3 linked regions of the Homo sapiens genome follow. The protein of the gene in region 1 interacts with the protein of each later gene in a pairwise test. Each region holds a gene or a part of one and is shown in the gene's direction. Other genes may lie near its edges. The genes, in order: METTL21A, FAM200C and ATRIP.

The links.
Region 2: the proteins of METTL21A (region 1) and FAM200C interact in binary tests that used the Homo sapiens proteins (3 or more experiments, as listed by UniProt).
Region 3: the proteins of METTL21A (region 1) and ATRIP interact in binary tests that used the Homo sapiens proteins (3 or more experiments, as listed by UniProt).

Annotation. Positions count from the first base shown.
Region 1 is NC_000002.12:207,618,863-207,622,513, reverse strand, and holds part of METTL21A (protein N-lysine methyltransferase METTL21A), read left to right. Parts: intron 1-596; coding exon 597-708; intron 709-1,723; coding exon of another isoform or gene 1,724-1,773; exon of another isoform or gene 1,774-1,819; coding exon of another isoform or gene 1,820-1,873; intron 1,874-3,651. UniProt on the Homo sapiens protein: Protein-lysine methyltransferase that selectively trimethylates residues in heat shock protein 70 (HSP70) family members. Contributes to the in vivo trimethylation of Lys residues in HSPA1 and HSPA8.
Region 2 is NC_000005.10:160,397,109-160,401,264, reverse strand, and holds the start of FAM200C (protein FAM200C), read left to right. Parts: upstream 1-1,210; 5' UTR 1,211-1,626; intron 1,627-3,749; exon of another isoform or gene 3,750-3,823; intron 3,824-4,156.
Region 3 is NC_000003.12:48,456,690-48,460,340, forward strand, and holds part of ATRIP (ATR-interacting protein), read left to right. Parts: intron 1-569; coding exon 570-727; intron 728-2,669; coding exon 2,670-2,765; intron 2,766-3,097; coding exon 3,098-3,227; intron 3,228-3,420; coding exon 3,421-3,651. UniProt on the Homo sapiens protein: Required for checkpoint signaling after DNA damage. Required for ATR expression, possibly by stabilizing the protein.

The DNA of each region.
Region 1 (3,651 bases):
GTGTAAACTTCAAGCATAAAAGTGCTGTGACACAGTAAAAAGTTAAGCTTTCCAGGCTGGGTGTGATAGCTCACGCCTATAATCCTAGCACTTTGGGAAGCTGACGCAGGAGCTCAGGAGTTCAAGACCAGCTTGGCCAACATGGCAAAACCCCATCTCTACCAAAAAAACTACAAAAATTAGCTGGGTGTGGTGGTGCACGCCTGTGTCCCAGTTACTGGGGGTGCTGAGGTGGGAGAATCGCTTGAGCTTGGGAGGTGGAGGTTGCAGTGAGCTGAGATTGTGCCACTGCACTCCAGCCTGGGTGACAGATGGACTGAGACTCCATCTCAAAAAAAAAAAAAAAAAAAAATTAAGCTTTCCAGATCCAGCAGGACCCCATTTAGTGTGGGCATCATCTCTGGGCACTGCTGTGGGACCCTGTGCTTGCTCTAAGGGGGAGGTTACCTTGCTGCACCAGCTAAGTTCCTGTGTGTGTTGTTAAGCTGGGAATTGAACCTCGAAGTGGGAGAGGGGTGGGTGTAGCTGACCTGAAACCCTGCAGCTACTCAAGCACATGTTGACCTTAATCGTCATCACACTGTGTTTTCATTCAGGCCATCGTTCTTTCCACATACCTGGAGATGGGAGCTGTGGAGCTCAGGGGCCGCTCTGCCGTGGAGCTGGGTGCTGGCACGGGGCTGGTGGGCATAGTGGCTGCCCTGCTGGGTGAGTGTCATGCATTGACTCCTTAGTGAGCAGAACTCATTGAGAGGTGCATTTGCTGTTTTCTTAGCGCAAAACCCTTCGTGGGTTTTCCCCTTACTGGGTTATTATCTTTTGCTTATACTTATGAGTTGTGGGCCAACTGCTGGGGTTCTTAACTCCAGTGAGGCTAACGGGCTAATTTCTCTCTCTCTAATTTCTGTCTCTCTCTCTCACACACACACACACTCTGTTATTTATACTTCCCATGGGAGATTGCTCTGCCCCCTTCAATTCTGTGATGCCAATAATACGATCTTAAAGTGAGTTGATTCAAGGAGAATAATCTTACCCATGTATAGAGTTTTTTTCACATTCAGGGGCTTTCTTTCCCATACACTATCTGATTTAACCCTGTGAGGGAGATAGAGCAGATAGTCTTTTCTTCATTGCTGAGGAAACTTTGCTGGTTTTTCTCTTGTAGGGAGGGCTAGCCCCCACTATAGTTTGTACTGACTTCTTATTTTTAAAATTGTATGAACAGTATACAGTTCTGACTTGATATCAAAGTTTGTCATTTTAAAATTTGGTATACACACATTAATTGAGGCTTGGAGCTAGAGCATTTTTAGGCTTCATTGTTATTTTTATTATTGACTATTGACTCATTTCTATAACTTCTGACATATATAGTTCAAGCTATCTAATCATAAGGGTAGACCAGCTTTCAAGATACAATGTATAATGTTTATCACTTCCATATTGTCACCTGGTGCTCTTGTTAAAATGCAGATTCTGATTTGGCAGGGCTGGACCAGGGCCTGGGAACCTGCATTTCTAACAAGCAGTAGAAATGTCAGTAGTGATGCCGACACTGCTGGTTCTCAGACTACACTTGGGTAGGAAGGATCCAGGATTCCAGAGTATTCTAAACCCATCGCATTGTCTACAGATATTTGAGGACCAGCTAAAGCCCCTCTTTTGTCCTGCCTGTTTTCCAGAAACCCAATACTTTTTCACTATTTCTTTTTCTGCTTAGCTGCTGCTTTCCAAAATTCGACAGGGAGCATGGGCAGGGGTGGTGGTTGAAAGTCTGTGTAAATTGACAGAGGTTTCCGTCCGTCTTCAACCACAGCACTTAAGTCATCGATGAAGCCCTTGCTGGTACACTGCCTTTTATTCTTTTCAGGTGAGCCTTAGAACATTCCCGTGTATGTTAGGTATTATTTTTAATTTTCATTTTTCAAACAAAGCTGGGATTCTGGGAGATGAAGCTACTTTCTGAAGTCCTGATCACTGGAGATCTGGGACTCAAAACCAGGCTTGTTAGACACAGTTAGTTGTTTTATTTTATTTTATTTTATTTTATTTTATTTATTTATTTTTTGAGATGGAGTCTCACTCTGTTGCCCAGGCTGGAGTGCAGTGGCATGATCTCGGCTCACTGCAACCTCCGCCTCCCGGGTTCAAGCAATTCTCCTGCCTTAGTTTCCCTAGTAGCTGGGACTACAGGCATGTGCCACCACGCCCAGCTAATTTTTTATTTTTGGTAGAGATGGGGTTTTACCATGTTGGCCAGGCTGGTCTCGAACTCCTGACCTCAGGTGATCTGCCCACCTTGGCCTCCCAAAGTGCTGGGATTACAGGAGTGAGCCACCGTGCCTGGCCTGTTTTATTTTTTTCTGTAACACCAACTTCTCTCTCTGCTGATATAAGAGTTACTATAAGGGGAAATGAGGTTTCTTCTGTTTCCTCCTGAGAACCAGGGCTTCATGCAAAACTTTCTTGGCTGGTGTATAGACATGTTAGTGTAGCAAAGTGCATAGGCTTAGTTATACTTGGTTTTGACATTTCTTTTCATTCTTACTAGTCGTGTGACCTTGGGCAAGTTGCTTAACCTTTAAACATTGATTACCCCATCTGTACATTGTGCATAATAGTAATATTTACTCCACAGTGAGGAACCAATGAGATTGCGTGTATAACATCTGCTGGCTCACTGAGTGACACAAAGGAAGTGCTCCACGAGTGTTGATTACTCTCTGAGTAACTGCTTTTTCTGATCTAGCAATCTGGTTCTCTGGGGTTGGGAAAGTCAGAATAAGATATTTCAGATACCACCAGAGTTACCATTAGCATTTTGGTATGTTTTGTTTCTCTCCATCTGTATTTTTAATCATAGTTGTAATTATGATTATATATATGTAAATATATATGTCTGCGTATGTGTGTTTTGTGTATCCGTATACACACACCTATACAAATGATGTTTTCACATTATGTCATAAGCATTTCTCTGCTACTGTATGATTTTCATACTCACTATTTGTAGTCACTACAAAGTGTTAGGTTGGAGAAGTTTTGCTGTTGGAGCCTGAGGGTAAGAAAATGTTAGTCTCTTCAAAATAGAATCAGTGAGTACTAGAATAGGTAGTGATTTTGAAATGTCAGGAAGAGATTAATTATTATTCTTTTTAAAGTATATTCTCTTTTTGTAACCTTAGTCATTTATTCCTGAATTTGGGGAGAACCCACCAGAAGCCTGGCGGTCCACTGTGGATGGGGCAATAAACAGGCTGGCAGGTGTCTCCGGAAGCTTACGTTCTGAGTTTAGTGGGTAGAGGTAAAGAAAGAAGATTAAAAAAAAAAAAAAAAAGCGGTGCTATGTAGATATTAATATAGGGTGATGAGACTTTCCTGTTAAAAACCAGCTGCTAATTCCTGAGTAGTTCCTGTGTTCTGAGGACTGTGCATTACACCCTTTCATTCTCACAGTCACCCTGCATGGTAAGTAGGCCTTACCTACTTATAGCGCCCTTCCAGTGGTGAAAGGGAGGCTTCTTGGAGGGTAAGTAACTTGCCTGAGGTCACAAAGCTAATGGATTGTGCTTAGAATTTGAATCCAATCTGACTCTCAAATCCTCGTTCTTAGTTTGAAAATCTCCCTGGTCTTATGGTACTTGGAAC
Region 2 (4,156 bases), on another chromosome or scaffold:
TTGCGCCACTGCTCTCCAGCCTGGGCAACAGAATGAGACCCTGTCTCAAAAAAAAAAAAAAAAAAAAAAGAAAAAAACATAATGCCTAGGACATTACTCAGATTGAGCTTTGATTTTATTATCTCAATAATAGCTGCCTTTTGAGTGCGAGAATTATGTACTGTAATTGTCATAATGTTATCTCCTTCCTCAAAAGAATTTCATGGGGTAATGGATGATATGTAAGTTTTACAAAAAGCACATGGAATTAACTCCAAGTAACCTGCACAAATCCTAACCGTTGGAGTCAGGACATGAAGCTAGCTGTGGGATTCTGAAGCCTACCCCTTTCTCTAGTATTGAAGGCCCTAATTTCTTGACCAACAAGGCTGGTCTTTAGCAGTTTCTTCCATCCACAAAAAACTTCAGCAGCCCGTCAATATTTACCAGGCTCACCCTTAACACCTGAAAATGATGTATCTGGCCCACATTCGTTGACGCCCCACCACTCCTCACACACACTAGTCTTATGGAATGCTTCTAACAAGATTGTACAAAAATGAGTAAACTCATTAAGTTTATAAGAATTCTGGAAAGACCCCCAAACAGGAAAGGGCTATATTCCGGTTTCTTTCAACAACGTTTCCTAGTTTCTACTTGGGATTTTTCTCTAAAACCTCTCTAATATGGGTTTATTTCTTTGAAATCATGTTGTTGAAAGAATTTAAAATAAAAATATTTCAGATATATGATGATGACATGGAAATTCATCCCTATGCTCCCACTTACGGAAAGTGGGATCAGCTTGCATAGGCAACAGTACACAAGCTATGGAAGCTCATCCTCCACTGCTGAAATGTCTAATCTGAAATTACAATGAGCTTCCTTCTCTTTTTCTCTCATTTATTCCACATGGAACATGGCAATTATCAGGCGTTTTATCTCCAAGCTCAAAGCCCGACACAATATAAAAGTTTAAGTGCTCTGCATGTTAAAAAGAACTATGTGGAGTTTACAGCCCCTTCCATTCCTGAAATTGTACAGTTCATCCTCTCTGGCAGACACAATAAACAAACGATTTCTTGTTCCACGTACACAATCTTAAAAAAAAAATTGGGAAGGGCTAGCGCGCATGCTCAATACTCAAGCCAGCCAGCCCATCCCACAGCCCTTTGCTACTGCGCCTGCGTGTGGGAGACGCCTCTCCCAGTTTGCGGGCGGGAAGCACCCTGGAGAACCCGGATGGAACCCGGGCCTGGCTGAGGCGGAGGTTGTTGCGGATGCTTCTCTCTCCAGGCGCACCGCAGATTCCTGCCCGGGGGTTGGACCCGAGGAACCGCCGTCTCTACTGGTTCCGACGGCCAGAGGCTGGGCCCTAGGCTGAGCGGAGAGTGGGACTGGAGCCTGAAACGGGCGCCTAAAAGAAGCCCGTGCATCCCATAGGCCTGCGCCTCAGGCTTGGAGACGGGCGGGCGGAGACCGCGCTGAGTCTTTTTTTTTTTTTTCCTAGCAGCTGGCGTTCTTATCTCACCCGGGAGGCTGTAAAAATCTCCGTCCTTAACAGTAACACCATCAGGTCCTATCAGTTAAGAGCTGCTTGTTATTTGCATGCATTCTTATAATTAAATCTCCTAACAACCCTGTAAGGTAGGTACTGTTATCCCCTCTGGAGGAACTGAGGCTTGGAAAGGTCCCATCCTGTAAGTGACAAAGCCACGATCCCAGGCGTTTGCCCCTGGAGCGTCTGCCCAGCCACCAAGTTCCTGCCCCCATTCTCCTGGCTATTGATTTTAACTGTAAAATGTAATGGTTAAATGCTCTGCCTCCCCAGACACCTGCGCCTATCATGATCTTGCATACGCAGTGGCTAGAAAGAAGTTGAATTGTATTTGGTTTGGAGTTTTAGGTTTACAGCTGCACTTTGGTGTTTTCACTGCTGGAATATATATATATTAGCATTCCCTAAATATTTGTTTTGTGAGTGTTCACTTTTAACTGATTTTTCTCATTTGTAATACTTTTTCATATCTACCCTTCATAAACTTGCAAAAACATTTTACTTTGTTATATCAGATCTTTCATTAAGCATCTGAAGATAATCTCTCAAAAGAATCATGCTTAAAATGAGTGATATCTATCTTAAGATAATGCTTTTTATCTTTTTATTATGGAAAGTTTCCAAAATACATTAAAATAGAACGGTGTAATGATGTATACCCATCATCCAGCTTCAAGAGTTACCAACTTAAGGCCAGTCATTTCTTTTATCTCCACCCCGCTTTGTGCATGTTTGTGAGTGTGCTGAAGTACGTATTTCAAAGGAATCCCAGACATCTTATTTCACTTGTAAATAATTGTCTGTATCTAACAAATGAGGACTTTTTAAAAACACAACCACAATACCATTATCATGCCTGTTTAACAATATCTCCTTATCATGATGCTTTTTAATGTTTACGTTTTTTAGGATATTGTAATTCCTAAATACCACAAAAGCGCAAGTGCAAATTGTGAGGTTCTAAAACACAAGCCTCTTGGGCAGTAAGTTCATCTTTGAGGCCCTTGAAAATTCTTGCCACCTGTTCTCCCTTTTTGAGGGTTATGGAGAAGAATACTTTAAATTGATTTTCCTAAAACTGTTCAAAACAGATAAATTTTAAATTAAAATATACTTGAGAGACATAGTCAAGGTGGATAGGAATGGACTCTTAACAGATCTTGTAATGATTTCCAGTTTGTTTTGTTTTTGAGACAGAGTCTCACTCCGTCACCCAGTCTGGAGAGCGCAGTGGCATCATCTCGGCTCACTGCAACCTCTGCCTCCCAGATCAAGCGATTCTCCTGCATCAGCCTCTCCAGTAGCTGGGATCACCATGCACAGCTAATTTTTGTATTTTTAGTAGAGACGAGGTTTCGCCAAGTTGGCAGGGCCAGTCTCAAACTCCTGACCTCAGGTGATCCGCCTTCCTCGGCCTCCCAAAGTGCTGGGATTATGGACATGAGCCACCGTACCCAGCCTTTTTTTGAGACAGAGTCTGGCTGTGTCACCCAGGCTGGAGTGCAGTGGCGTGATCTCAGCTCACTGCAATGATCTCAGCTCACAGCAACCTCTGCCCCCTGGGTTCAAGCGATTCTCCTGCCTCAGCCTCCCGAGTAGATGGGACTACAGGCATGCGCCACCACACCCAGCTAATTTTTGTATTTTTAGTAGAGACAGAGTTTCACTATGTTGGCCTGGCTGGTCTGGAACTCCTGACCTCAAGTGATCTGCCCGCCTTGGCTTCCCAAAGTGCTGGGGTAGCAGGCGTGAGCCACCGTGCAGGGCCCCTCTTGTAATGATTTCTAATGTGACTAAAAACATTTTCCTTTATTCCCTCTTCCTCCCCAAATATTACATGATAAATATACATTAATAGAATACAGAAAAATAAGCATTTATGGTAATGTCATAATTTTATCGTCATTAATTAGAAGTGGTTCTAAGCAAAAGTGGTCATGTAGTCTCATTACTTGACAAAAGAAGTCTTAAGATCAGCTCTTTAAACTTCAGGTTGTCTTTTTTGATTGGCAGACATCCTCCAATTTAACAGGCTCATAACAACCTTGTAACAGCTCAGCTTATTTTATTGGAGTACACTTTACAACTAGTTCATCTTGGTAGATCCACTTGAAAGCTAATGCTTTAAGTGGATATTCTTGGCTTGTGATTTTTCTTTTAATGTCCAAAGTGGGCATTCAGATTTAAATGTGTACCTGTTACTTTATTTCAGCCACATTCTCTGGCACAGAACTTTGGAAACTTTGGGGATCACTTACTTATCTTGGAGATAGAATGTTTTCTAAGGTATATTTGAGCCTACCTGTGGATTATGCCTTTACTCGTTGCTAAAGGGAGAGAAAGAGAAAAGATATGGCTTTCATTTTAGGTTTCAACTTTCATAGGAGGCTGTCATCAACTCAGAAAATGTAGAAAATTTAAATATCTATTAAAGCATTGGGACCATTCACTTAGAAACCTAGAATATTTGTTAGCTAAGGATTGGTTTGAAGGATACGTTTTTATTCCCCTAAGCCTGACTACTTAACCAGGTTGTGTTTCAGGACTGCCTGAACAACATTATTTCATATTCTTTTGTTCTGCTTCTGGAGAAGATATGTATTAGTTCTAAGGTAGTGC
Region 3 (3,651 bases), on another chromosome or scaffold:
GCTTGAGCCCAGGAGGTCAAGGCTGCAGTGAGCTATGATCATGCTACTGTACTCCAGCCTGGGCAATGGAACAAGACTCTGTCTCAAAAAAAAATGTTTTGGTGGAATTGTAAATAGTGATAATAAAGAATAGTAAAGGAATTATGGCTAATATTATATTTTTGGATGATTAGAAAAATATAAAAATGAGTAAAAGAATTTTCAATAATTTGGATCAAAATCCCTGGAATTAGCCAGTAACAGTGGATCATGCCTGTAATCCCAGCATTTTGGGAGGCCAGAGTGGGTGGATCACTTGAGCTCAGCAGTTCCAGACCAGCCTGGGTAACTTAGTGAATCCCCATCTCTATAGAGAAATTAAAATTTTAAAATATTTTTAAAAAGAAAAACAAATGCCTGGAATTTTGCACTGCTCCTCTGACAAAGAATGGTAGACATATAATAGATAAAACCTTTGGTTAAAACACCTAGACATGAAAAGTTTAAAGTTTGTTAGAAATTTTGTAACCAGATATTTTGAATGGTTTTAGTAGAATCATTACTTTGCTTTCATAGTTAACTTTTTCCAGTCCTAGGAAAAACCCTTCTGTGGTTATAAAGCCAGAAGCATGTTCTCCACAATTTGGAAAAACATCTTTTCCTACAAAGGAGTCTTTTAGTGCTAACATGTCCCTTCCCCACCCCTGCCAGACGGAGTCAGGATACAAGCCTCTGGTGGGCAGAGAGGGTAAGTCCATTAGTCATCTATTGATGTATAACAAGCTACCCAAATATGTGGCTTAAAACAATTATTATTTATTTTCTCCCAATTTCTGTGATCAGCAATTCTGACAAGGCACAGAGGGGACAATCTCTGCAGGGACTGGAATCACTGAAAGCTTGTCTTAAGCTGGAGGATCTATTTCAAGGTGGCTCACTCACATGGCTGGCAGTGTAATTTCTTGCCACATGGGCCTCTGCACATGGATATGGGGTATCCTCTTAACCTGGTGGGTGGCTTCCTCTAAAGCTAGCAAATCCAGAGAGAGCGAGCCAGGCAGAAGCTATCCATTTATGGCCTAGCCTCAGAAGTCACACAGCATCCCCTCTGCCACATTGTATTTGTTAGAAGCAAATCACTGAGTCTGGGCGTCATTCAAGGGGAGAAACCAAGCTTATACCTTTTTTTTAATTTTTATTTTTTATTTTTATTTTATTATTATACTTTAAATTTTAGGGTACATGTGCACAACGTGCAGGTGTGTTACGTATGTATACATGTGCCATGTTGGTGTGTTGCACCCATTAACTCGTCATTTAGCATTAGGTATATCTCCTAATGCTATCCCTCCCCCCTCCTCCCAAGCTTATACCTTTTGAAGGGGAGTTGTGTCAAAGCATTTGTGGGCCTTTTTTTTTTTTTTTTTGAGGCGGAGTCTCACCCTGTCACCCAGGCTGGAGTGCAATGGCACGATCTCAGCTCACTGCAACTTCCGCCTCCCGGGTTCAAGTGATTCTCCTGCCTCAGACTCCCGAATAGCTGGGATTACAGGCACCTGCCATCATGCTTGTGGGCATATTTTTAAACCATCACAGCATCAATTGACCATGCCAAAAACCTAGCTAGTATGCAGGAATCTGTTTTTCTTTTCTTGTTTTTTTTTTTTTTCTTTGAGGCGGAGTCTCACTCTGTCACCAGGCTGGAGTGCAGTGGCGTGATCTCGGCTCACTGTAACCTCTGCCTCCCATGTTCAAGCGATTCTCCTGCCTCAGCCTCCCGAGTAGCTGGGACTACAGGCATGCGCCACCACACCCAGCTAATTTTTGTATTTTTAGTAGAGACAGGTTTCACCATGTTGGCCTGGATGGTCTCAATCTCATGACCTCGTGATCCACCCACTTCAGCCTCCCAAAATGCTGGGATTACAGGCATGAGCCACCGTGCCCAGCCTCTGTTTTCCTTTTGTAGTCCAGCTTTTGAGTTTTTATAACTCAGTCCAGATTGAGGGGATCTGCTGTTTTTTAGAGAGAGACAATCTAACATCAGTAGGTTTTCAGACTGCTATGTCAGTGTATCTTATAAATCGGATACATTGACCCTCTTCTTACCATCAACCTTTCAAATCCTTGGCCATCATAACACTTCTGAGAAACTGTAGCCCACTTACATTTTTGGCATCTAGCAGCTAAAGGGGCAGTGTACAGTAGTGTTACAAGCAGGCAGTAGAGCCCAGTAGCCTGGATGTGAGTCCCAGTAATGCTGTTAACTGGCTTATATGATTTGGGCAAGTCCTTTAGTCTCTGTGCCTCAGTTTCCCTATATGTAAAACAGACCTAATGATAAATCCTTGTAGGGTCACTGAGGAACAAATGGGCTGATGCGTATAGAGCTCTTAAAACACTGTCTAGCACGTAACAAGCACCATGTCAATGTTAGTGGTCACTGTTTTATCTAATTGCCTCATTTTGAGTGAGGCAAACAGCTTGATTTTCTTTTCCTTTCCTTGTATGAGTTCCTGTTTTACATAAGGAAGGTAAAAGATGCAGGGCTCTTGAGCCGCTTTGGCTCTTGTTTGTTCCAAGTTCGAAGAAGTAGAACAGCGTGTGTTTTAAACTCATTGCATGTAAAAGTTTCTAATATGCCCATGCTTCTGGGCTCAAGTTTTGATTTACATTTTATCACATTTCAGATAGTAAGCCCCACAGTCTGAGAGGTGACTCCATAAAACAAGAAGAGGCCCAGAAAAGCTTTGTTGACAGCTGGAGACAGAGATCAAACACTCAAGGTACCAGAATCCCTGCTTCTCCTGCAGGGGCCTGCATGGCTCTGAGTAATATGCAGAAGAATTGCCCAGGCCTCTGAGAACCGGTGCCCCGGGCAGTCCTTCAGAGAGTCCAGGGAAGTCAAAGTATGTGGCTTAAGCAGAAGACTTTATAAAGTGGAAAGGGCCAAGGGCAGGTATGTCCCAGAGCCTTCCGCACCCACAGGCATCTTCCTGGGGCTTAGTGGCAGCCTAGAGGACAGTTGGCATCCAAAGAATCCTTACTGTTTCCTTCTGAAAGCCACCGAAAAGATCTCCCATGTCAGAACCTTCTAGAGTCATCTTGTCTTCTGCAGGTTCCATTTTGATAAACCTGCTCCTGAAGCAGCCTTTGATCCCAGGGTCATCCCTAAGCCTTTGCCACCTCCTGAGTAGTAGTTCTGAGTCTCCTGCTGGCACCCCCCTGCAGCCACCAGGGTTTGGCAGGTAAGCATAAGACTCCTGGAAAGCTTGTTTGGGAAGGAGCTTCCTGGAAGCAAATTCCTTTCTGGCCCTGGCCAGCCTGAGAAGTCTGTGGGAAGGGCAGGCAGCCTGGAGAATTTGGCAGGCAGGCTGTTTGGGGCTCTTGACCTTATCTCCATCCCACACTTAATCTATTTTTCTTTGTGTTTGTTGCCAGTACCTTGGCTGGAATGTCAGGCCTCAGGACCACAGGTTCTTATGATGGGTCATTTTCCCTCTCAGCCCTGAGAGAAGCACAGAACCTGGCATTCACTGGACTGAATCTGGTTGCCCGGAATGAGTGCTCACGTGATGGAGACCCAGCAGAGGGAGGCAGAAGGGCCTTCCCACTCTGCCAGCTTCCTGGAGCCGTGCATTTCCTCCCCCTTGTACAGTTCTTCATCGGCTT